Linked DNA regions of Homo sapiens. The protein of the gene in region 2 interacts with the protein of the main gene of each other region in a biochemical or structural test. Each region holds a gene or a part of one and is shown on either strand. Other genes may lie near its edges.

Evidence for each region.
Region 1: of the proteins of MAPT (region 2) and MAPK8, one has a biochemical effect on the other in vitro, tested with the Homo sapiens proteins (2 studies listed by BioGRID).
Region 3: of the proteins of MAPT (region 2) and PTPA, one has a biochemical effect on the other in vitro, tested with the Homo sapiens proteins (2 studies listed by BioGRID).
Region 4: of the proteins of MAPT (region 2) and DYRK1A, one has a biochemical effect on the other in vitro, tested with the Homo sapiens proteins (2 studies listed by BioGRID).
Region 5: of the proteins of MAPT (region 2) and CAMK2A, one has a biochemical effect on the other in vitro, tested with the Homo sapiens proteins (2 studies listed by BioGRID).
Region 6: of the proteins of MAPT (region 2) and SRPK2, one has a biochemical effect on the other in vitro, tested with the Homo sapiens proteins (2 studies listed by BioGRID, with this or other methods).
Region 7: of the proteins of MAPT (region 2) and CDK1, one has a biochemical effect on the other in vitro, tested with the Homo sapiens proteins (2 studies listed by BioGRID).

The regions. Positions count from the first base shown.
Region 1 is NC_000010.11:48,421,677-48,425,176, forward strand, and holds part of MAPK8 (mitogen-activated protein kinase 8), read left to right. Parts: intron 1-2,411; coding exon 2,412-2,483; intron 2,484-2,837; coding exon of another isoform or gene 2,838-2,909; intron 2,910-3,500. UniProt on the Homo sapiens protein: Serine/threonine-protein kinase involved in various processes such as cell proliferation, differentiation, migration, transformation and programmed cell death.
Region 2 is NC_000017.11:45,901,054-45,904,553, forward strand, and holds part of MAPT (microtubule-associated protein tau), read left to right. Parts: intron 1-3,500. UniProt on the Homo sapiens protein: Promotes microtubule assembly and stability, and might be involved in the establishment and maintenance of neuronal polarity.
Region 3 is NC_000009.12:129,114,415-129,117,914, forward strand, and holds part of PTPA (serine/threonine-protein phosphatase 2A activator), read left to right. Parts: intron 1-3,500. UniProt on the Homo sapiens protein: PPIases accelerate the folding of proteins. It catalyzes the cis-trans isomerization of proline imidic peptide bonds in oligopeptides. Acts as a regulatory subunit for serine/threonine-protein phosphatase 2A (PP2A).
Region 4 is NC_000021.9:37,523,773-37,526,858, reverse strand, and holds the end of DYRK1A (dual specificity tyrosine-phosphorylation-regulated kinase 1A), read right to left. Parts: 3' UTR 501-3,086; downstream 1-500. UniProt on the Homo sapiens protein: Dual-specificity kinase which possesses both serine/threonine and tyrosine kinase activities. Exhibits a substrate preference for proline at position P+1 and arginine at position P-3.
Region 5 is NC_000005.10:150,286,974-150,291,195, reverse strand, and holds the start of CAMK2A (calcium/calmodulin-dependent protein kinase type II subunit alpha), read left to right. Parts: upstream 1-1,422; 5' UTR 1,423-1,570; coding exon 1,571-1,632; intron 1,633-4,222. UniProt on the Homo sapiens protein: Calcium/calmodulin-dependent protein kinase that functions autonomously after Ca(2+)/calmodulin-binding and autophosphorylation, and is involved in various processes, such as synaptic plasticity, neurotransmitter release and long-term potentiation.
Region 6 is NC_000007.14:105,115,874-105,119,921, reverse strand, and holds the end of SRPK2 (SRSF protein kinase 2), read left to right. Parts: intron 1-1,899; coding exon 1,900-2,084; 3' UTR 2,085-3,548; downstream 3,549-4,048. UniProt on the Homo sapiens protein: Serine/arginine-rich protein-specific kinase which specifically phosphorylates its substrates at serine residues located in regions rich in arginine/serine dipeptides, known as RS domains and is involved in the phosphorylation of SR splicing factors and the regulation of splicing.
Region 7 is NC_000010.11:60,788,478-60,791,914, forward strand, and holds part of CDK1 (cyclin-dependent kinase 1), read left to right. Parts: intron 1-3,412; coding exon 3,413-3,437. UniProt on the Homo sapiens protein: Plays a key role in the control of the eukaryotic cell cycle by modulating the centrosome cycle as well as mitotic onset; promotes G2-M transition via association with multiple interphase cyclins.

The DNA.
Region 1 (3,500 bases), on a different chromosome or scaffold from region 2:
CACCTGTAATCCCAGCTATTCTGGAGGTGAGGCATGAGAATCGCTTGAACCCGGGAGGTGGAGGTTACAGTGAGCCGAGATTGCACCACTGCATTCCAGCCTGGGCGACAAAGCAAGACTCTGTCTCAAAAAATAAAATAGAATAAAAAATGAACTGACATATGGTTCCTCTTTAGTTAAGAATTATGTAGATCACCTTCTTGCCTTCCCACTCCCACCCTAGGAAACGGAGTCAAATGTAATGCTTAATGATTATAACTACATTAGCCAGCAAGGTTAAACATAAGTACTTCCTCCTTTTAATGACACCTCACACTCATTTTATTTATCTTATTTATTTATTTATTTATTTATTTATTTATTTATTTATTTTTGAGATGGAGTCTCACTCTGTTGCCCAGGCTGGAGTACAGTCATGCCATCTTGGCTCACTGCAGCCTCCACCTCCTGGCTTCAAGCCATTCTCCTGCTTCAGCCTACGAGTAGCTGGGACTATAGGCATGTGCCACCATGCCTGGCTAATTTTTGTATTTTTAGTAGAGACAGGGTCTCATTATGTTGGCCAGGCTGGTCTTGAACTCCTGACCTTAGGTGATCCACCTGCCTCAGCCTCCCAAAGTGCTGGGATTACAGGAGTTTGAGCCACAACGCCTGGCCTCCCACCCATTTTAACAACTTTGCTTTATGTACCTTTTATTGCAGGCTACTCAGAGCATTTTGGAAAGCAGTGTAATCAATATATTTTTAACTGCTTAATAGACTAAGCAGTTAGTTTACAGCTAGAGTTGTGCATGAATCAGACTTATGTTCCTAGTCTTCACTGGCCCAGATAATATCTTCTCTCATGCTTGCAGCTTTCAAAATACTTTTGTTTAAAAATGAGCTTTTCTGAAAGTTACCAAATAAGTTGTAAGCTGGATATTTAAAGTTTAACATTCTCTATAAAATCTGTAGAGAAGATTTATTCTAATAGATTTTTGTCAAAAACGGAAACCTTAGAAAAAATTTTTCTCTGAGGCACTAATTTATAAATATTAAATTTTTTTTCTAAAATCTTATCCTTGAAAGCTGAACCATGACATAAATATGAAAATATTCATTCATTTTAATATGACATTTTAGGGAAACTTTAGTTCCACAGTATTTCCAAAAGTAATTTCCAGTTTAGCTCTTAAGACTCTTCAGTGAACTGGCAGCCTTTTAATAAGAATGTACTGTATTAGAAAGTACAGGCTTTAATTTTCTAAGTCCTTTAACATGAGTAAAGGGCACGTGTCTTTCTGACATCTATTTGTGCCGTTTTCCACTTGTCATTTTAAAGAATTGGGACCTTCAGATGTCACAACTAAATGCAAGTTTCTAAGGCTTTTCCTTCTAAATTGCTCATTCTTCCCTCTTTTCCTGTTACACTGCAAGCACTTACTCTCTCCTTTTTGTGTGATGTTCAAACCCAAAGGCATAAAATGCCACGATGTGTTGTCAGTTTCCCTTAGTAAGTGGAGATTCCAAATTGTCTGTTTCTGTGTCTAGCAGATTCTTGTCAACATTGATTGGGATTCCCATTTACAGTTGGCAAGGGTCATCAGTAAGTCTTCCAGGAGACTCTTCATACTCAATTCGTGGGAACTGACTTACTGTATCTAGCCAAAACTAACTTCTTAAGCCAAAAGCAGTTTGGTTTTATGGGTTTAAAAAACTTTAGGTAGGAAACATGAAATACATTTCTCTTACTAAGTTTTCCTTGATTAGTTGTTCATTCTCTGTGCACTTGTTCCTTTTGGGATAGTAGGGTAAATGTAGCATGATGTTGCCAAGAAAACAAATGGACTTTTAATTCAGAACAAGCATAGCACTTCTCAGTTAAATGTATTTGGGAAATCCAGTTTAAAAATTCCAAAGAGCTTTAGATTAACTTTTTTATCATAATTATTCATAGAGATTATTTCTGTTAGATATTTTAATATGCTGAATTATTTTCTCATGCTTTTTTCTTAGAGAGTATAATGCACAGTTGAACTTCTAAATAGTATAGTATAACAATTTTATTTTTATAATTTTACTACCTCATGTACATTTTTATTTACAAAGTTTGTGTTTGGTTCTATTTCATATTTTATAAACAAGTTCTCAGGGACAAACATGCAGGGTTTTTCTATTTATGCAATTTCTGTGCATAGCTCTCACTTTGAAATTAGATATGTAGTTAAAATGCCACACTTTACATTTTCTTTTGTGAACCAGACTTTCAAAAAATAATTTGTGTTTTAAATTATTCCGTTAGCTAAAGTTACAATCACTTTTTTTCTTTTCGTGACGTTTTGCAGTTTTTATATAATGCAGTCATATTATGCTTCTTTGATTTTAATGACCTTTTGCTTTGCTTTTCCTTCTTTTGTGCTGCAAACATATAGTGGATTTATGGTCTGTGGGGTGCATTATGGGAGAAATGGTTTGCCACAAAATCCTCTTTCCAGGAAGGGACTGTATCCTTGTGCTGCTGCAGCAGTTAATTAGTTAGGCGATGAACTTCTTTATGTTCTCTAATGAAAATGAATATGCTACATTTACACAGATGGGTTTTTAAACAGGCATAAAGTTTGTGGCTATTATAGTTCAAAAATTGTTGAGATAAGAAGCTGAAATATTTGTAGGCTGCATCTGGCAGTAGGACATACAGTCTCTGCTGGTAGTCAGAGCACATTCACTGTCACTCATTTTTATTTTATACTGCTTTTTATAATTTTAAAGTATACATGGTGTGTGTGATTTTATTTCTTTCTTTTTTTTTTTATTTTAACCAAAATCTTTATGTTAATGTCATTGCATTTTGTTTTCAGTTGACATTTGGTCAGTTGGGTGCATCATGGGAGAAATGATCAAAGGTGGTGTTTTGTTCCCAGGTACAGATCGTATCCTTATCTTTGGCCTAAAATGTAGTTTCTAAAGGTCAAAATGTATGATAGCACTTCAGTTTGGTCAGGTATAATGTATTTTGTCTCTCCCTAATATATTGTTAAATTACTCTTAAAATACCACCTACTATTTGACATAGACTTTTCCTTCCGTTATTTATTGTTTCATATGTTAATTCTGAACCCTGCTCAATTGTAATTATGCACAATTACTTGCTGGCTTTGAGTTGATTTAACCTAAATCAAAAATCATGGCTTGCATTAAAAATTTATAATAATTATACACTTAAGTCTAGAAATACGTACAACTTAATATGAATTTTGGAGCTGTCTGTTGCTTCTGGCCATCCTTTTGTTTTGTCCCCTACCTCCTTTTTGTTAATGTTCTGTGTGGTTTGTGTCTTTTGATTGTTGTCTCATTACTCACATAACATACTGACCCTTTCATCTGAGAATTTCAGCAGTAGTAGTTTTGTATGGTAACGATAGCTTTGGATTCATACTTTTTGTTCATCCCACTACTTTTAATATTTATATTAACAGTGATTTGTTATGTGTTTACCAGCTAGTAACACTTAGAATTGTTTC
Region 2 (3,500 bases):
GAAAAGTCGGCAACTACCCAGCTCCCCTGCACCAAACTGGGCAGAAGTGGATCCTCTGAAAATTGCACACACCCATGTTTAAATGTACACACAGAACTCTTGCCACAGGCAAGCGGAGATTTGTCATCTGCTGTCCCTGCCTCATCTTCTTCCTGAAATCCACTCCATGCCAGGAATAAACTGCATGCTCTCCACCAGCCCAAACTGACCTGCCTTCCCGCCAGCCATCCCGGGCAGGGTGACCTGGCTTAGTACATCGGGTTCAGAGATCTTTCCAGTTTACTCGTTGAATAAAAAGTGAGGGCTGATCGAGAAAGTAATGGCAGTCAGGGAAGGCGAAGGAGGTAAAGAAGAGATTTTACAAATGAAGTAATTCAACAGAGTGCTGACATTGGTAAACTGGCAAACAGATTTCAGGGTGGTTGGTTGAGAGTAGAGTAGAAAAGGATTAAATAAAGCAAACTTGTGGTGTACTGAATCTTAGGAATTCCATGTATCCAATAAGTATAGTCATTTATGAATTAATAAATTCGGCCTAAGAAGCCTTCTTATCGCTTAAATCAAGACTAAGTAACAATATATCAGTTTTAAAAAGTCATTATATCAGAAAATCATTTAAATGATACACATAGATTTCCAAGATTTTACTTTAACCGAAACTATATAAATGTGAATTTGTTCACCCATCTTTTGACACAGGGCTCAGGTCTTCTCTTGGTGTCTGGATCAGCCAGTTGAAATTTCTTGTCTGTTTTGCCTATGCCACATTAATAATGCACTGTCTGGGTCCTCCGATTTCAGTTTGGATTTTGGGTTTACATTGTGGAGTCATCTGAATGCAGAATCCTTCAGGGATTTTACTTTTTTTTTTTTTTTTCATGGTCTTTACCATCCCATTTGATAGTAAATATTACTCACCTTTATGAAGTCTTTCCAAAACATTCAACTAAATTTTCTTAAAATCATTGAATGATTTGAAGAGCTTATTCCTCAGCACTTTTACTCCATCAGCTTGCACCTTATTTTTTAATCTTTTTTTGAGACGGAGTCTCGCTCTATCGCCCAGGCTTAAGTGCAATGGCGCGATCTTGGCTCACTGCGACCTCCACCTCCTGGGTTCAAGCAATTCCGCCTCAGCCTCCGCCGTAGCCGGGACTACAGGTACACACCATAATGCTCGGCTGATTTTTGTATTTTTGTAGGGATGGGGTATCGCCATGTTGGCCAGGCTGGTCCCGAACTTCTGACCCAAGTGATCCACCCACCTCGGCCTCCCAAAGTGCTGGGATTACAGGTGTGAGCCACCGCGCCCGGCCAGCTTGCACCTTATTTAGGATATGTGATTATTATAGCAAGTCTGGTGTACATACAAGATTTTGAATGGGCACAGATGACCTTTAGTAAGTGCTTGGCTGTGATAAGAGGCAGTCCTGACTGCAGATCAGGCTGTGTGGACCCCAGCCTTGCATGTTTACAGACCTTCATGTCTTATTCTTACAGGGTATCAGAAGAACACCTACTGGGGAAACTTATAAATTAGTAAAAGGTGGGCATTCTCCCCGCCCATCTTCTGTCTGTCTGCCAGGACTAGCACAGCACTTTGAAGTCATTCACATAGAATCCCAACTTAAGAGGGTAAAATCCTCCTCAACAGACTGAAAATAAGTTTAAATTCCCTTTGCTATATTAACTCCCCTGAGGAAAGAGTCTTAGATCAATGTCCAACACTAAAAACAGTTTTAAATCAGCAAGTGAGAATTAAATCTGAAGCAATTGATAATAATGTTTCATTCATTCCTCTCCTTTGGCCCCGTCCACCCTACTGCTAAATCCAGGCATCAAAGAGAAGAGGGACATAATTATCTCTAGTCCCAGCTGCTGGTTTTCCTTCCAGCCTATGGCCCAGTTTTCTGTTTTACTGAGAAGGCTGGTGATGTTATCTTGGGATCTAAGTCTGCAGTTTCACCACAAAAAGTCCAGGGATGCACTTTCATGCTTGTGTCCTCCTCCCTGGGATAGCAAGGATATTAGAAGACCCCTGGCTCTGTAATTGCTTGTCATGTGCTCTACAGACGCCACAGAATGCCAAGAACGAAGTGCTGGGAAGGACAAATTCATGGAACCGTGGGACGGTGCTCCTCCCCCAGCGTAAAGGACAGCTCCTCCTCCTGAATTGGAGCCAGCGTTCTAAATCATGTGTCAACAGAGTTGTCCTGGATCGGATCCAGTTCTGCCATTGATTTGCAGGTCATTTCAGTGGTACCTGTTTCCAGTTGTTCTTAATTGAACAGTGGCACCAAACTATTGTCTTGCCTCATCCCCCTCCCATGGCCTGTCCCCCAAAAAGAGACTTCTTGGGTAATTAATCAGGGCAACATCAGGCAGTCTGGGCGCGGTGGCTCACGCCTGTAATCCCAGCACTTTGGGAGGCCGAGGCGGGCAGATCATGAGGTTAGGAGATTGAGACCATCCTGGCTTTGTGAAACCCCGTCTCTACTAAAAATACAAAAAATTAGCCGGGCGTGGTGGCGGGCGCCTGTAGTCCCAGCTACTCGAGAGGCTGAGGCAGGGGAATGGCGTGAACCCGGGAGGTGGAGGTTGCAGTGAGCCGAGATCGCACCACTGCACTCTAGCCTGGGCGACAGAGCTAGACTTCTTCTCAAAAAAAAAAAAAAAAAGGAATCTCTTTGGTTTTATATATATTTTTTTTATATATATAATATATATTAAAATATAATATATATATTTATATAATATAATATATAAATATATTATATATTATATATTTTATATATTATATATTATATATATTATATATTATATATTTATATATTTATATATTATATATATTTATATATTATATATTTATATATATTATATATTTATATATAATATATATTATATATTATATATTATATATTATATATTATATATTTATATATATTATATATTATATATATTATATATTATATATTTATATATTATATATTTATATATATTATATATTATATATTATATATTTATATATTATATATTTATATATTATATATATTTATATATATTATATATTATATATTATATATGTATATATTATATATGTTATATATTATATATATTTATATATATAATATATTGTATATATTATATATCTAATATATTATATATATTATATATATTATATATTATAATATATATTATATATTATATATTATATATATTTTTATATATATAATATGTATAATATATAATATATATAAAAACATATATAATATATATTATATATTATATATATATTATATATATTATATATATTAAATATATTTTATATATATTATATATATATACACATATATATATATAAATGAGGCCAGGCTCGGTGGCTCACACTTGTAATCCCAGCACTGTGGGAGGATCACTTGAAGCCAGGAGTCTGAGACTAGCCTGGGCAACAAAACAAGATCCTGTCTCTACAAAAGGAAACTGTAAAAATTAGCTGGGCA
Region 3 (3,500 bases), on a different chromosome or scaffold from region 2:
ACTTCTCTCTTTTTTAAAATTTCTTTTTTTTTCCCTGAGAAAAAGCCTCAGTTATTTCTTAAAATAACTATAGGCTACTATACTTTCTTCATAGAATTGTAGTATGTGTTTTATAAGATGTGTGCAAAGCATGGGACATAGTAGGCGATCAGTAAATGCTGATTGCCCTTATCTTTTTCAAAGTTTCAAAGTTGTACAGGTTGAACATGTAGACGAGTTTCAAATGGCCAATGATAATGCTATATATTATAGTCTTTGTTGGGGGGCTTAGGAAGGAACATTTCTAAAATTCTGAATGTTGATTTTATACTGTGAGGTTGTTGGGAATCCACTGTCCCTTGGAACCTATGTCTCTATAACCTGAGGCTGGAGAGACTGTGGGCGTGACCTCATTTATCACCATCCTGCCTTTGAAGGCTTGTTTCTTTGATTTGGGATTGTGTGTTCTGGCAACTTGTGTGTGTTTCATCAGTAATTTGTTATAGTGCTTCCTGGTAAGGTAGCCTTTTCCCAAACATGGACTGGCCTGAAGGCTCTCTTCCTGTGAAATATCCCGGTTAAATAATGTCAGGAGTGCCATCCCTTTTTTTATTTTTATTTTTTGAGACAGAGTCTCACTCTGTCACCCAGGCTGGAGTGCAGTAGCATGATCTTGGCTCAGTGCAACCTCCGAGGAGAGCTGTCCCTTTGCAGAGAATGGTGATCTCACACATATAAAAGGGCTGTATGTTCCCAAAGATTATTTCCAAGTTGATTATTTGGAATGTGGGACACATTTTCCCATAAAAGCAATGTGGTTGGGTTACTAGTCTGACCTACAAAGCTTTTTATTTGGCATCTTAGTTGAAGTGCCAATTTACTAATAGCAGTTTTGGGTTCTGGGAACAGAGCTTGCAGGACAGGTGGGAGGAGGAAGAGAGCTTCTGATCTCTTTCTGGGGCCTTGGTTTGAGTTAGGCAGAGATTTGTCTTTCTCTAAACTCAGGTTCTCTATCCTTCTCCTTAGGTCTCCAAGTCCCCTGGCACTTTTCTTTTCTTCAGTTCCTCTCCAGACAGGCTCTATTTCTCCAAATGTTATATGTTCCAGAAACTTCTTAGGTCCCTGTCCCTTTTTCTCCATGTAGCTGATGTCAGCCAGGTTTTAGGAGGAAGGCAGGGGGACAAATTTATACCAGGTTGTGAGTGATTGATGATAGTCCTTTACTCTTCCACTTTAGGGAGAGTTTGCATTTTTTTTTTTTTTGAGATGGAGTTTCACTCTTGTTGCCCAGGCTGGAGTACAGTGGCGTGATCTTGGCTCACTGTAACCTCTGCCTCCTGGGTTCAAGTGATTCTCCTGCCTCAGCCTCCCGAGTAGCTGGGATTACAGGTGCCCACCACCACGCCTGGCTAATTTTTTTGTATTTTTAGTAGATATGGGGCTTCACCATGTTGGCCAGGCTTGGTCTCAAACTCCTGACCTCAGGTGATCCACCAGCCTCCGTCTCCCAAAGTGCTGCGATTACAGGCCTGAGCCACCGCGCCTGGCCAACTGCCTCCTGGGTTCAAGTGATTCTTCTGCCTCAGCTTCGCGAGTAGCTGGGACTACAGGTGTGCGCTACCATGCCCGGCTAATTTTTTTTTTTTGAGACGAGTCTCGCTCTGTCGCCTGGTCTGGAGTGCAGTGGCGCGACCTCGGCTCACTGCAACCTCTGCCTCCTGGGTTCAAGCGATTCTGCCTGCCTCAGCCTCCTGAGTAGCTGGGATTACAGGCACTCGCCACCACGCCTGACTAATTTATTTTTTATTTGAGGCGGAGTCTCGCTCTGTTGCCCAGGCTGGAGTGCAGTGGCGCGATCTCGGCTCACTGCAAGCTCTGCCTCCTGGGTTCACGCCATTCTCTCACCTCAGCCTCCCAAGTAGCTGGGATTACAGGCATGCGTCACCTCGCCCAGCTAATTTTTTTTGTATTTTTAGTAGAGACAGGGTTTCTTTTTTTTTTTTTTTTTTTTGAGACGGAGTCTCGCTCTGTTGACCAGGCTGGAGTGCAGTGGCACGATCTTGGCTCACTGCAAGCTCCGAGTTCCATGTTCTCGCCATTCTCCTGCCTCAGCCTCCCAAGTAGCTGGGACTAAAGCACCCGCCACCATGCCCGGCTAATTTTTTGTATTTTTAGTAGAGACGGGGTTTCACCGTGTTAGCCAGGATGGTCTCGATCTCCTGACCTTGTGATCCGCCCGCCTCGGCCTCCCAAAGTGCTGGGATTACAGGCGTGAGCCACTGTGCCCGGCCACACCCGGCTAATTTTTGTTATTTTTAGTAGAGACAGGGTTTCGCCATGTTGACCAGGCTGGTCTTGAACTCCTGAGCCCAGGTGATCTGCCCACCTCTGCCTACCAAAGTGCTGGGATTACGGACATGAGCCACTTCACCTGGCTAATTTTTAAATTGTTTGTAGAGATGGGGGTCTCCCTGTGTTGCCTGGGCTGGTCTTGAATTCCTGGGCTCAAGCGATCCTGCCGCCTGGGCCTCCCAAAGTGCTGGGATTACAAGTGTTAGCCACTGTGCCTGGTCTAGATTTTCTTCTTTCTACAAGTTATGAAAATTTCCATTATGTGGGCATATAATTAATTACACATCATCTTATCAACTGATATTTGGGTTGTTTCTAATTTTTTTTTGTTTTCAAGACAGGGTCTTGCTCTGTCACCCAGGCTGGAGTGCAGCTCACTTCAGCCTCAGCCTCCTGGGCTCAAGTGATCCTCCCGCCTCAGCCCCCGAATAGCTAGGACTACAGGTGTGCACCACTACACCTGGCTAATTTTTGTATTTTTTGTAGAGATGGGGTTTGGCCATGTGGTCCAGGCTGGTTTCAAACTCCTGGACTCAAGCAATCTGCCTGCCTCGGCCTCCCGAAGTTTTGGGATTATAGGCGGGAGGCACTGTGCCTGGCCTAGATTTTATTCATTTTATAAGCTATGAAAATTTTTATTATGTGGGCCTATCTTTTTTTTCTCTTTTTTAAATTTGAGACGGAGTCTTGCTGTGTTGCCCAGGCTGGAGTGCAGTGGCGTGATCTTGGCTCACTGCAACCTCTGCCTCCTGGGTTCAAGCGGTTCTTCTGCCTCAGCCTCCCGAGTAGCTGGGATTACAGGTGTGCGCCACCATGCCTGGCTAATTTTTTGTATTTTTAGTAGAGGTGGAATTTCGCTATGTTGGCCAGGCTGGTCTTGAACTCCTGGCCTCAAGTGATCCACCCGCCTCGGATTCCCAAAGTGTTGGGATTACAGGTGTGAGCCACCACACCCAGCCTCTTTTTTTTTTTAAGACAGTCTCACTCTGTCACCCAGGCTGGAGTGCAGTGGAACGGTCCAGCTCACTGCAAGCTCTGCCTCCCCAGTTCAAGCGATTCTCCTGCTTCAGCCTCCCAAGTAGCTGGGATTACAGGTGTGTGCCGTCATGTCAGGCTAATTTTTGTATTTTTTAGTAGAGATGGGGTTTCAATATGTTTCCCAGGCCTGG
Region 4 (3,086 bases), on a different chromosome or scaffold from region 2:
GGGGAATAACATTTCCCTAATTGAGATTCAGAGCTAGTGTTGTGAATCGTCAAAACCAATTGCATATTTGCATATATTTATCTGTTAATGCTGATTTGGAATGAGATGTGACACAGTTCATCTTTGAACATGTCTTCACACAGATAGGTACCTTCCCAACACTACTATGTCCATGAGCATTTTTTTTTTTTTTTTGAGACAGGGTCTTGCTCTGTCACCCAGGCTGGAGAGCAGTGGTGTGACCTCAGCTCACTGCAACCTCTGCCTCCCAGGCTCGGATGATGCTCCCACCTCCATCTCCCAAGTAGCTGGGACCACAGGCATGTGCCACCAAGCGAGGCTAATTTTTGTACTTTTTTTTTTTTTGTAGAGACAGGGTTTCACCATGTTGCCCAGGCTGGTCTTGAACTCCTAGGCTGAAGTGATCCTCCCATTTCAGACCCCCAAAGTGCTGGGATTACAAGTGTGAGCCACTGCACCCAGCTCATGAGCATAAGATGTTTAGCTTAGCATATTTATTACATAAAACACATTTATACATTTTTATAAGATTCTATTAGACTCTATTAAATTTTTCTTTAGATAGTTGCCTTTCAACACATTAATCACTTCTCAAATGCAGATCAATGGATTCTGAAATATAAAAATTTCTTTTGGGTTTGCATTGAGGTCCCTAACACACTGCTCAAACTGTAGTTTGGGCTCAGATAATGTATCTGTGGCAAATGTGTGTGGGAATGGAGCTCTTCTTTTTTTAACTTTTAACAACATGGGAAGAGCTTAAAGCAGTAACATTAGTTGTGATTCAAACAATAGTTCTTCTTGAAATCACTTAACACAGTAGGAGTTTCACATAAACACTGTTTTTATCTTGTGGTTTAGGCTGAATTCCTTAAGAAACACTATCAAGTCTGCAGCAAAAGTGAATTTCCAAAACTATTCAGTGTTTAGTAACGGTGGTTCGGGGCAGTTCTCATTCAGAAAAATTTCAATCTTTGTCCTGAGCTCAAAACTTAAATGAAACTTTACCACTACTAAACCATTGAACTGCTGTATTACAGGCCATGTCGGGATATTCAGCTAATATTTCTGACAAAAATTCATGAGAGCTGTTGATAGTGAAGTCCACAAGAGCTAAAGGAAGTTCACTATTGACAATACTGGTTCAATAATGCATGATAGATTCAAATATTTCTCACAAAGTATCTGTTGACTTAAATAATACAATGAATAATCTATAGGCTTTAACACCTTATATTATTACAAGCTTTGTAAGTTGTCCAACTGAGCCATTTTCTATTCCACACTGATATGAGTTAGCTGTGTCCCCACCCAAATCTCATTGAATTGTAGCCCCCATAATCCCCACGTGTCATGGGTAGGACCCAGTGGGAGGTAACTGAATCATGGAGGCAGGATTTTACCATGCTGTTCTCATAATAGTGAGTAAGTCTCATGAGATCTGATGGTTTTATAAAGGGCAGTTCCCCTGCACACACTCTCTTGCTTGCCGCCACCTAAGACTTGCCTTGGCTTCTCCTTTACCTTCCACAACGATTGTGAGGCCTCCCCAACCATGCGGGACTGTGAGTCCATTAAACCTCTTTTTCTTTATAAATTACCCAGTCTCAGGCTTTTCTTTATAGCAGTATGAAAATGGACTAATACACACATATATTTCCACTACCAACAGTCATAACACATCTTAGCAGATTCCACTTCAGGGTGTACTGAATTCGTTTTCTCAACTTTTTGTTTTGAGACAATGTTCTCACTCTGTCATCCAGGCTGGAGTACAGTGGTGCAATCTCAGCTCACTGCAACCTCCACCTCCTGGGTTCAAGCGATTCTCCTGCCTCAGCCTCCTGAGTAGCTGGAATTACCAGTGCATGCCATCATGCCCGGCTAATTTTTGTACTTTTAGTAGAGATGTAGTTTCACCATGTTGGCCAGGCAGGTCTCAAACTCCTGACCTCAGGTGATCTGCCCACCTTGGCCTCCCAAAGTGTTGGGACTATAGGCATGAGCCGCCACACCTGACCAGTTTTCTCAGCTTTGAAAATACTTTTGCCAGTAGTTGTTCCACATAAGACTATTGATAGAGGCCAATTCTTCAGTTACTTCCAACTTGGTACTGGCTCCTCAAATAAAGAGCAATAGCGGAGCAGTGTGCATAACATATGGTGACCCCTGTCATGAGAGTCAGGGGAAACCACTCAAAACCATTTGCCTTTTTAGTCGACTACTGATGTCATTCCTAATGTCAACTCTTTGAGCAACTGTTGTCGTGGAAAGGCCAATAAACAAGTTTACTTTCTCTGAGCATGTTTCTTCAGCTGCAGTAATCAAGCATGATTTAATTAATTCACCATAAGTGACTTTCCTTGCTTGGCTAACAAATGAGCCATCTGAAACTTACTTTGGTTGTAGCTTCATTTTCATTTTTTATTTTTGTGAATAAATTCTGTGATGAGATATTCAATTTTAAATTTTCTAATTTTTCTGACCATTGCTTTCTTGTGAATTAGAAATATCTTGATGAGTGCTAAGATGGGAAGTAACAACATGTATTTTGGTTTTTTTTTACTTTTTGTGGAGATGGGGGGTCTCACTATACCACCCAAGCTGGTCTCCAAATCCTGGGTTCAAGTGATTCTCCCACCTCAGCCACCCAAATCGTTGGGATTACAGGCATGAGCCACTGCACCTGGTTGTATTGTGTTCCTTAGGACAGCTACCATGTCATTGCACTTTGCTGCCTAATTCAGTAACAATTCATACTCCATTGTACCTTAAAAGCACAATGATATTTGAAATCCACTTTTCTTGTATATATTGGTAATAAAAAATAAAATGTTGTAGCATGGGAATACAAGTGGCATTCAAAATGCTGCTGAGTTATAACTGTGTCACTGCAATTTACATTGCACAGAGCGGCAGGGCAAAATGATGAGAATGCCACATATTCTCATCATACGGTCTCTGCAGCAACTACTCAATTCTGCCACAGTAGCACCAAAGTGGCCGTGGACAACTTGCAAATGAATGTGGTTATGTTCCAATAAAACTTCATTTATGGACACTGA
Region 5 (4,222 bases), on a different chromosome or scaffold from region 2:
CAGGAGTTTGAGACCAGCCTGGGTAACATGGTGAAACCTTGTCTGTACTAAAACACAAAAAATTAGCCAGACGTGGTGGTGTGCGCCTGTAGTCCCAGCTACTTGGGAGGCTGAGGCAGGAGAATCACTTGAACCCAGGAGACGGAGGCTTCAGTGAGCCGAGCTTGCACCACTGTACTCCAGCCTGGGTGACAGAGTAAGACTCTGTCTCCAAAATAAATAAATAAATAAATAAATAATATAAATAATAAATGTCCAGGAATCAGAGCTCAAACTCAGATCCTTAGTCTTAAACTCCAGTCCCTTTTCTTCCTAACTCCAAGACCTTGGAGTAAGATCTTGTGGCTGTAGGTATGGCTGATGCCCTGAAGAGTTGAAGTTGGCAGGGAAGGTGCCCAGAAAATTTTGGATTGAAGATTTCATGGCAAGTCTCTGGCCAGTGGCCTAGCCCGGGTAAGCCATGCTATGCTCACCTCCCCACAGCCCCCTCTCGCCTTTTTTTTTTTTTTTTTTTTTACCTTGACTGGAAGCACAAGCAGAAACTGGGACATGAGCACCAGGAGACCAGATTTCCATGGTCCCGTTGGGGGCATGGGGTTGGGGAGAGGTTGCAGAGGAGGGCTCTGGAGGGGAGCAACTGTCACAGCTGTGAGAGGTGGGGGTGAGCAGGCAGTCAGGGCTGTTCCCTCCAGAATCCTGGGGTGTCCTCTGCACTTCTGCGCCAAGCTGGAGTGCTAGTGTGATGGACAAGGTGGTAAGAGAGCTGAAAGAGCACGAGCATAACAAGAAAGACAGAGGCAGAAGCAAAAAAAAAAAAAAAAAAAAAACAGAGGGCAACAGAGAGACAGTTACAGAGACTACAGTGATCCACAGAGGGAGAGCCATCCCTGTGAATTAGCCATCATTTCCCTGTAAACCTTAGAACCCAGCTGTTGCCAGGGCAACGGGGCAATACCTGTCTCTCTAGAGATGAAGTTGCCAGGGTAACTGCATCCTGTCATTCGTTCCTGGGGACCATCCGGAATGCGGCACCCACTGGCTGTTACCATGGCAACTGCCTTTTTGCCCCACTTAATCCCATCCCGTCTGCTACAAGGGCCCCACAGTTGGAGGTGGGGGAGGTGGGAAGAGAAAAGATCACTTGTGGACAAAGTTTGCTCTATTCCACCTCCTCCAGGCCCTCCTTGGGTCCATCACCCCAGGGGTGCTGGGTCCATCCCACCCCCAGGCCCACACAGGCTTGCAGTATTGTGTGCGGTATGGTCAGGGCGTCCGAGAGCAGGTTTCGCAGTGGAAGGCAGGCAGGTGTTGGGGAGGCAGTTACCGGGGCAACGGGAACAGGGCGTTTTGGAGGTGGTTGCCATGGGGACCTGGATGCTGACGAAGGCTCGCGAGGCTGTGAGCAGCCACAGTGCCCTGCTCAGAAGCCCCGGGCTCGTCAGTCAAACCGGTTCTCTGTTTGCACTCGGCAGCACGGGCAGGCAAGTGGTCCCTAGGTTCGGGAGCAGAGCAGCAGCGCCTCAGTCCTGGTCCCCCAGTCCCAAGCCTCACCTGCCTGCCCAGCGCCAGGATGGCCACCATCACCTGCACCCGCTTCACGGAAGAGTACCAGCTCTTCGAGGAATTGGGCAAGTGAGTTGTGCCTCAGGAAGTCCTGGAAGGCATGGGGGGCGGGGAGGTCAGGGTCTCTAGTGGGGTGTGTGTGCCTGCAGTGCTTGGGGAGCATTCCTTGTACACAGATGAAGGCAGGCTGCATGGGTTTGGGGGCACCTGCCTGTGTACAGAGTGTCCAGAGTCGGGCGTGGGTATGTTTGTGGGTGCACAGATGTGCCAAGCTAGCCAGGCCAGTGTGTATGTAGGGATGAAGGGTTGACAGTGTATGCCAGTGCACACACATACACACAAAATGCACACAAGTACACACAACCTGGATACACACAGATTCTTAGAGACTTAGGGTTAAAAAGGGATTTTCCTAGTCAGCTGGGTCCAAAGCTGGAATTCCTTCTCTAGTTTTGCTTGAGGTGGCCATCCGCCCTCCACTTAGATACCTCCAGTGACAGAGAATTCACCAGCTCCCGGTAGTTCTTCCTGACTTTAGACACCCACAGTGACTGTACAGAGTGGCCAACTTCTCCCTCCCTACCTCCCCTTTCTCAGCTCCTGCCAGGAGTGAGGGCGTCAGTACAGTAGGGGTTAATATCTGAGCATGACAGGCTTCCCGGGTGTTGGGAGGTGGGGAGAGGAAATCAGGAAAGCTGTAGCGGGGAGCACCGCTGTTTCAGGGGCTAGGGTATGAAGGGTGCAGTGGCTCTGGACAAGCAAAGTTGCCCAGCCCAGAGCTCATTTTCTGCCCTGATGACTGCTGTGTAGAGAAGGATGGGAGGATGAGGAAAGAGGGGAGGCCCTTGTGGGTGGCCCAGTAGGGTGTGGAGTGTCAGGGAGGGATTCCTGGATGTCCCCAGCTGGGTTTCTGGAGGATCCTGGGATGGGTCAAGGGTTGGGTGCATTTTGGAGGCAGAGTTTGCCTTGTGGGCAAAGGAGCACCGATGCCCTGGTTGGTTTCTGCTGAGGCAGCAGGAGCACGGGGGGAGGGGCCCTGGAGGCAGGTGTGTATTGGTGTGAGTTCTGAATGTGTGTGTACTAGTGTGCATTTTGAGGAGTGATGTGTGTGGCTGTAGAAGGGCTTTTGAGGGAAATTGCTTGTGACACTGGGGTACGCTGGTGTGCCCTGCCAGGGTGTGCAAGCATTCATGCATGTGCACCAGGAAGAGGTGCTTCGTGTGTAAGGCCTGAAAATGCAAGTGTGCCTTGCAAGGGTGCATGTGTGTGAGTATTACAAGAGTGCTGTTGGCTGGGTTGAATGAGAACAAGGGTGTAAACATGACTCATTAAATGTGCACATGTATGGCAGGTTAGAGCTGTGTGCACATAGGAAGGCACATGTGTGTGAGGTCTAGGGGTGTGTGAGGATGCTCATATGAGATGCGGACACAATGGTGTTCCTGTGAGGTCTTGATATGCACATCTACGTGAAGACTGGGGTCATGCACACAGGATGATGTACGTGTGTGTGCACACGCATGTGTGTGCATGTGTGAGGCCTGGGCTCACAGGGTTATGTGGGAGTATGGGTGTTATAGGCATGTGTGAGCTCATGCTGGTGTCTGCATATGTGTGGGAGGTGGCCCTGTGACTGTATACAGGAAGGCTGCTTGCACACACACACACACACACACACACACACACACACACACAGAGGCTATCCTACAGGCATGCACCACCTCCCTTGAGCACATATACCCCCATGTGTACGTGTGTTCACTCTTATCTGCAGACTTTCAGCTTTTCTGAATGTGCTTTTTTTGCGGGTAGGGGCAGGAACAAAATGTTTGGGGCTGCTCTGGAGGACTGAGGCTGTCTACAAACTTGTGCAGGGACCCCTCTCCAGGTGTTTTCCAGTGCTCGCCTAGAACCCAAGAATTCCCTGATTAGCCATGAAGCTGCCTTTCAGGGAGTGACCAAGACTGGGTCCTGGCAGGACTGCGTCATGAGTACAGTGAGATGGAGTTGAGATGTGACTCAAGTGCTCAAAGTGAAAATAAAAGTGATGTTTTGCCCCAAGAGGAGATGGATATCATTAAGACTGGGTTTTGTGGGGGCAACTTGGTAGAGAGACCCTTCGTGAGCCTTCACAGAGAATTTCAGGGGCAAGGGAGCCCTGGTGTGGCCATGGCAGGAAAACCGAGGGTAGCAGGCATAGCTAGGCCTTGTTTAATCAATTTCAGACTTCTTCCTTCCAGAACCATCAGACTGCTCTTAACCTTTTTTAGGTCACATATTCCTTCAGGAATCTGATGAAAGTCTAAATCTACGTTCCCCAGAAAAACGCACAAACCTACGAAATGTTGCATGCAATGTCAGGAGCTTGCAGGGACATCGGGAAGACTGTGTATGAGCCTAAGTTTGCAGAAGCTTGTGTTAGAGACAAGGGGATAAAGTGGACTGATTCCGCACCCCTGATGTCTGTGTTAAAAAGTCCAGACCACATCATTGAGGAGCCTGGGGCTCCTGCTCTCCACAGCAGCTTCAGTCTGAGCATCCAGTGGTGCAGGGAGGGGCAGTGCCCTGCGTAGCCACTAGGGACACAGGCGCTGTCCCTCATCACCCATAGCTCTGTGACACCAGGCAGGCTATGCTACCTCTTTACCCCCACCTGTAG
Region 6 (4,048 bases), on a different chromosome or scaffold from region 2:
AGTAATATTAAATACTATTAAGTGAATCTACCTTGGTTTTCTTTTAACCACCATTTTACTATTACTGGCTCTTCGTAATTTTGCGAGTACATATAATTTTGTGCCAGCATATATTAGGCATGAATTTGGGGTGGTGCAACCAGGGTTTATCTCCTTGGGCTGGATTCCTAGAGCCGGAATTTCAGGCTTAGAGGGATAAACCTGCAGTCTCTGTTCAGACTTTGTTTTTATGGAGACTGTGTTTCCTTCAACAGGAGATCCTTTCCCGCCTCTAATATTACAGGTTCATTTCTTCATCAACACAGACCTGATGTCTAGTCTGGATGCGATGCTTTACTCTAGCTCCAGTCCTCATATTGGAAACAGAAGCTTATTTTACATCTCAGCCCCTTTAGCAAGCAGCCCTCTTAAAAGATTCTTTATACGGAACCCTGTGCACAGCATGATTGCAACTTTGTAGACATACTAGTGTGTAAGAACACTCTTCACAATAGACACAAAAGAAGAGCAGTTGTGGGTAGGATTGTAGGCTACTTCCCCTTTTGTTCTTATACTTTTCTGTAATGCTCTTTCCTTTTCATTGTGTTTTTAAACGGGAGGGCTTTTCCAAGTTGACTCGAATAAATGGGTGAAACAGAACAAGCCTCCTGAGAACACCTTTGTGAGCAGAGCACTGATTATCTATTGATGCATCTCATGAAAAAAATGTACCTTGTTTAAATTAAAGCAGTTGAAAGGGGAGAGAAGTCAGTCCTTGCATGAAGTGTGCCCTGCAGGTGCTTGAATGCCTCTCTCCCCCCACCGAGACCTGGCTGCTCTGAGGTGTGGGCACAGGGGGGTGTTTCCTCTGCAGAAGCTGCTCAGGATGCACTGAGGGGCACCTAAGGAGGTCTGTGGGCAGGGGTGGGATGTCCTATGAAAACTTCAAACAGGCAGAGAAAACGAGTTATTCACAGTGAAATTATCTGGAGCTTTTGACAGTTTATTGCCTTTTTGAAAAGGTTATGGGGAGACAGGGTTTCGCTTGCTCTGTCCCAGGATGGAGTGCAGTGGCATGACCTTGACTCACTGCAGCCTTGACCTCCTGGACTCAAGCAATGCTCCTGCCTCAGCCTCCTGAGTAGCTGGGATGTACCACCGTGCCCAGCTACTTTTTTTCTTTTTAAGTAGAGACAGGGTCTGGTCTATGTTACCCAGGCTGGTCTGAAACTCATGGGCTCAAGGGATCCTCCTGCCTCAGCCTCCCAAACGGCTAGGATTGCAGGAGTGAGCCACTGCCCTCAGCCCTTTATTGCAGTTTTGACTTAAAAATAACCTTTTTTTTCTCTTATGAAATGACCATTACAGCTCGTAGGCCATTTACTAGCTTGTTAGTCATTCTGTTATGTCAACCAAAGCTGCCTGTAACCGACACTTTTCATACTGCAGCTAGCACAGTTTGTGAAGTATAACTTCAAGGTTTACAAATTAATGTCCTAGGATCTTAGATCTTACAACAAATGCGTAGACATGAATGGTGTTTGATTTGGGTTGGCCTCAAGTTTGCAAATTTTACGGAAGATCCCAGGTTGAAATGAGAGTGGCTTGCTTCAACCTTTGGAAAAGAAAACACTCTGGGCAAACTGAGCCCACTCCACTTACTTAAAGAAGCTTAGAACTAATGTGAATGAACTATTAATTAACCTCTATTTAGATCCACCAGGCTTACTTGAAATATGCCTTGGTCATATGTACATGTAATGATTATTGCTTAGTGGGGAAAAGCTGGTGTTCTTTGTTGTTGCTGTACAAGTGTTGAGCAGGTGGTTGTCCGCTTCACTGAAAAGAACCTGACTGGACCAACAATGGGGAATGCAGATTTGGAGCTTTCTTGACATTGGCCTGTTTTTTCCCCTGTAGGAGAACTGCGACACATCACCAAGCTGAAGCCCTGGAGCCTCTTTGATGTACTTGTGGAAAAGTATGGCTGGCCCCATGAAGATGCTGCACAGTTTACAGATTTCCTGATCCCGATGTTAGAAATGGTTCCAGAAAAACGAGCCTCAGCTGGCGAATGCCTTCGGCATCCTTGGTTGAATTCTTAGCAAATTCTACCAATATTGCATTCTGAGCTAGCAAATGTTCCCAGTACATTGGACCTAAACGGTGACTCTCATTCTTTAACAGGATTACAAGTGAGCTGGCTTCATCCTCAGACCTTTATTTTGCTTTGAGGTACTGTTGTTTGACATTTTGCTTTTTGTGCACTGTGATCCTGGGGAAGGGTAGTCTTTTGTCTTCAGCTAAGTAGTTTACTGACCATTTTCTTCTGGAAACAATAACATGTCTCTAAGCATTGTTTCTTGTGTTGTGTGACATTCAAATGTCATTTTTTTGAATGAAAAATACTTTCCCCTTTGTGTTTTGGCAGGTTTTGTAACTATTTATGAAGAAATATTTTAGCTGAGTACTATATAATTTACAATCTTAAGAAATTATCAAGTTGGAACCAAGAAATAGCAAGGAAATGTACAATTTTATCTTCTGGCAAAGGGACATCATTCCTGTATTATAGTGTATGTAAATGCACCCTGTAAATGTTACTTTCCATTAAATATGGGAGGGGGACTCAAATTTCAGAAAAGCTACCAAGTCTTGAGTGCTTTGTAGCCTATGTTGCATGTAGCGGACTTTAACTGCTCCAAGGAGTTGTGCAAACTTTTCATTCCATAACAGTCTTTTCACATTGGATTTTAAACAAAGTGGCTCTGGGTTATAAGATGTCATTCTCTATATGGCACTTTAAAGGAAGAAAAGATATGTTTCTCATTCTAAAATATGCATTATAATTTAGCAGTCCCATTTGTGATTTTGCATATTTTTAAAAGTACTTTTAAAGAAGAGCAATTTCCCTTTAAAAATGTGATGGCTCAGTACCATGTCATGTTGCCTCCTCTGGGCGCTGTAAGTTAAGCTCTACATAGATTAAATTGGAGAAACGTGTTAATTGTGTGGAATGAAAAAATACATATATTTTTGGAAAAGCATGATCATGCTTGTCTAGAACACAAGGTATGGTATATACAATTTGCAGTGCAGTGGGCAGAATACTTCTCACAGCTCAAAGATAACAGTGATCACATTCATTCCATAGGTAGCTTTACGTGTGGCTACAACAAATTTTACTAGCTTTTTCATTGTCTTTCCATGAAACGAAGTTGAGAAAATGATTTTCCCTTTGCAGGTTGCACACAGTTTTGTTTATGCATTTCCTTAAAATTAATTGTAGACTCCAGGATACAAACCATAGTAGGCAATACAATTTTAGAATGTAATATATAGAGGTATATTTAGCCTCTTTTAGAAGTCAGTGGATTGAATGTCTTTTTATTTTAAATTTTACATTCATTAAGGTGCCTCGTTTTTGACTTTGTCCATTAACATTTATCCATATGCCTTTGCAATAACTAGATTGTGAAAAGCTAACAAGTGTTGTAACAATAATCCATTGTTTGAGGTGCTTGCAGTTGTCTTAAAAATTAAAGTGTTTTGGTTTTTTTTTTTCCAGACATTGCCTTGGTCATTGCCCTATAAATGATAGAATCAATGAACATTTGCTATCAGAGTAGTGTCACTAAAACTAAATACCAGCATTCCTGTTGCAGCAGATGTAGTTGTAGAACATGCATTGAGGCGTATTATAAGGAAATCATTTATTGTTTTTTAAGGGCAGAAGGGATTTAGGAGAAAAGCTACAGTATAGATTGATTCTCTAGAATATCAATGATCCCTTTTCATCCATGGTTCATCAAAAACATACTAACTGCATTTGTTTGATCATTGCAAATTTAAAACAAAACAGCATTTGCTGTTAGGAAACAAGACACATAATCCTCTTAGGAATTACCATTATATCACATTACCACTGTGAGGTAGAATGGATCATTCATTAATTTCTTTATGAAATTTGCATGCTAAGTTTTTCTAATGAGGCTGTAGGTTTCCATGTAAATTCTGTGATAGATAGTGGCTGTAGACTGGTGATGCTATCCGTGATTTCTATGAGAAA
Region 7 (3,437 bases), on a different chromosome or scaffold from region 2:
AGGAGTTTTCCTAGCTACAGTTTTTACATTTTCATTATTTTTTACTTTATTTATTTACATCATTCCCATCCTTTGTTGTACTTTAATTCTTTATATTAAACTCTCCCCATTCAAATCACCACCTTGGTTTCTGTCTCCTGACTGAACCCTCCCTGATTATAGTCAGATTGATTCAAAGACAGGTTTTGTTCCTTAAGGTATATTATTTCTGATACATTTAGGAATTGCTAACTATAATTTATGTTTGATCTGTGTTATATTGCTGACTTGGCATTTAGTGTTTCTGAAGGAAAGGGAACATTGTATAATAAAGGATTATTGAAAGGCTGTCTTCTGTGGAGTTGTCTACCCTTGACCCAAAGACTGTCTCCAGATCAAAACTAGTAACAGTGCTCATCTGATTAGATGTCTTGGCTGCTTGTTAGTCTTTATCATTTTTTTACATGGCTATATAAATAAACTAAGATTATTTTGTTTTCTTTGTCTTAAACAAATGCTATTGACCTCATTAGCTTTGTTCTAACAGGCAATATTTTTACCATATGATAAATATACTAAAATGGTTGGTTAGTTCTAGATCACTAATCTGTTATTTGACTTATTCACGTTTTTTAAATAATTTAAAAATCATTTTTTATCGACGCATTATTATACATATTTATGGGGTACAGTGTGGTATTTGGATACATGTATGCAATGTGTATTGATTAAATTGGGGTAGTTAGCATATCCATTGCCCCAAGCATTTATTATTTCTTTTTGTTGGGAACATTCAAAATTCTTTGTTTGGGCTATTTGAAAATTTACAGTAAATTATTGGTAACTGTAGTCAGCTTACAGTGCTGTAGAACACTAGAGCTTATTTTTCCTTTTGAGCTGTAATTGTATCCATAAACCAACTTATCTCTGTCTTCCTCTACTAAGCCCTGAATAACCACTATTCCACTCTATGGCCATTAGATCAACTTTTTACGTTTTCAAATATGAGTGAAAACATGTGGTATTTATCCTTCTGTGCCTGGCTTATTTCATGGCTCATCCTTGTTGTCATAAATGACAGAATTTCATTCTTTTTTTATGGCTGAGTAGTATTCTAGTATTCCATTGCGTGCACGTATGTGTGTGTACACTACATTTTCTGTATGTGTGTATGTATACACCACATTATCTGTTGATGGAAACAGGTCGATTCTGTATCTTGACTATTGTGAATAGTGCTTCAATAAACATGGGAGTGCAGATATCTCTTTGACATAATTGATTTTATTTATTTTGGACATATACCCCCAGCAGTGGGATTGCAAAATTATATGGTAGTTCTAGTTTGTAGTTTTTTGAGCATCCTCTAAACAGTTTTTCATAATGGCTCTACTAATTTAAGAGCCCACCAACAGTGCGTAAAAAGTTGCCCTTTCTCTGCATCCTTATCAGCACTTATTTTTTGTCTTTTGATGATAATTACTCTAACTGGGTGTGATAGCTCATTGTGGTTTTGATTTGCATTTCCCTGATGAATAGTGATGTTGAGCACTTTTTCATATACTTGCTGGTCTTTGTATGTCTTTTGAGAAAGTTTTATTCAGATTGTTTGACCATTTTTAAAATTGGATTCTTACTATTTTTTTTATTCTGGATGTTAATTCTTTGTTGTATGAATGATTTGCAAATAATTTCTCCCATTCTGCAGATTGTTGCATTATTCTGTTATTCTGTTCATTCTGTTTCTTTTGCTGTGCAGAAGCTTTTTAGTTCGATATAATCCTGTTTGTCTATTTGTTATTGCTGAGACAGGGTCTTTCTCTGTCACCCATGCTGGAATGCAGTGGCGTGAACAGGGCTCACTGCAACCTCAACCTCCTGGGCTCCAGTGATCCTTCCACGTCAGCCTCCTGAGTAATTGGGCCCATACACAGGCATGCACCACCATGCTAGGCTGATTTTTAAATTTTTTAGAGACGGGGCTGTCAGCATATTTCCCAGACTGTTCTCGAACTCCTGGGCTCATGCAATCCTCCCGCTTTGGCCTCCCAAAGTGTTGGGATTATAGGCATGAGCTGCTGCACCTGGCCTCATTTGTCTATTTTTGATTTTGTTTCTTGAGCTTTTGAGGTCTTATCCATATGATTTTTGTCCAGATCAATATCAATAACAGTGTTTCCTCTGTTTTCTTCCAATAGTTTCATAGTTTAAGGTCTTATTTAATCCATTTTGAGTTGATTTTTGTGTATGGTTAGATATAGGGGTTTAGTTTCATTGTTCTGCATGTGGATTATCCAGTTTTTCCAGCACCATTTATTGAAGAGATTGGCTTTTCCCTAGTGAATGTTCTTGTCATCTTTCTCAAAAATGAGTTGACTGTAAATACATGGATTTATTTCTGGATTCTCTATTTTGTTCTGTTGGTCTCTGCGTCCTTTTTTATACTAATATCATGATGTTTCGGTTACTATAGCTTTGTAATACATTTTTGAAGTCAGGTGATACGATGCCTTCAGCTTTGTTGTTTTTGCTCAAGATTGGTTTAGCTATTGTGGGTCTTTTTTGGTTCTATATGAATTTTAGGATTTCTTTTTATTTCTGTGAAGAATGTCCTTGGTATTTTGATGGAGATTGCACTGAATTTGTAGATTGCATTGGGTGGTAATATGGTCATTTTTATATTAATTCTTCCAGTTCATGAACATGGGATGTCTTTTTTGTATCTTCCTAAATTTTTTTCTTCAATGTTTTATAGTTTTTAGTGTAGAGATTATACATCTCATTTGTTAAATTTATTCCTAGGTTTTTTGTACCTATTGTACATTAGATTGCTTTCTTGATGTTATTTTTCAGCTAGTTATTGGTGTATAGAAACTATTAATTTTTGTATGCTGATTTTGATTTTGTATACTGCAACTTTGTTAATCAGTTCTAAGAGTTTTTGGTGGAGTCTTTTAAGTTTTTCTATATATAAGATCATCTCTGCACACAGGGACAATTTGACTTCTTCCTTGGCAATTTGGATGCCCTTTATTTCTTTCTCATGTTTCTTATTCATGTTATAATGGTACTGTTAGTACCATCTTAGCAAGTAAGCAGTACCTGCACTTTGTTCAGTGTCACCCCAAATCTATTATCAATGGGTTTGGTTTTTCAGTGGGGGGAAGATAAGGCTGTATAACTGTCTTGATCTTTAGTGATTTGAAAAGCAAAAAAATATTTATTATGCTTTTATCTGTTTTGTCTTCTAATGAATAGAACTTAGAAATGAAATATTTATCTTCAATTTTGTGTACCTTTAATTGACTTAAACAATATTATTGGTGGCAGTCATACAACCTTTAAAGGACAGCCCTAATAAAAATATAAATGTTTAAGTGTAGGTAATTTTATGCACCACATTTATTCATTGTAAAAATTTGCTTTTTAATAGGTAGTAACACTCTGGTACAGATCTC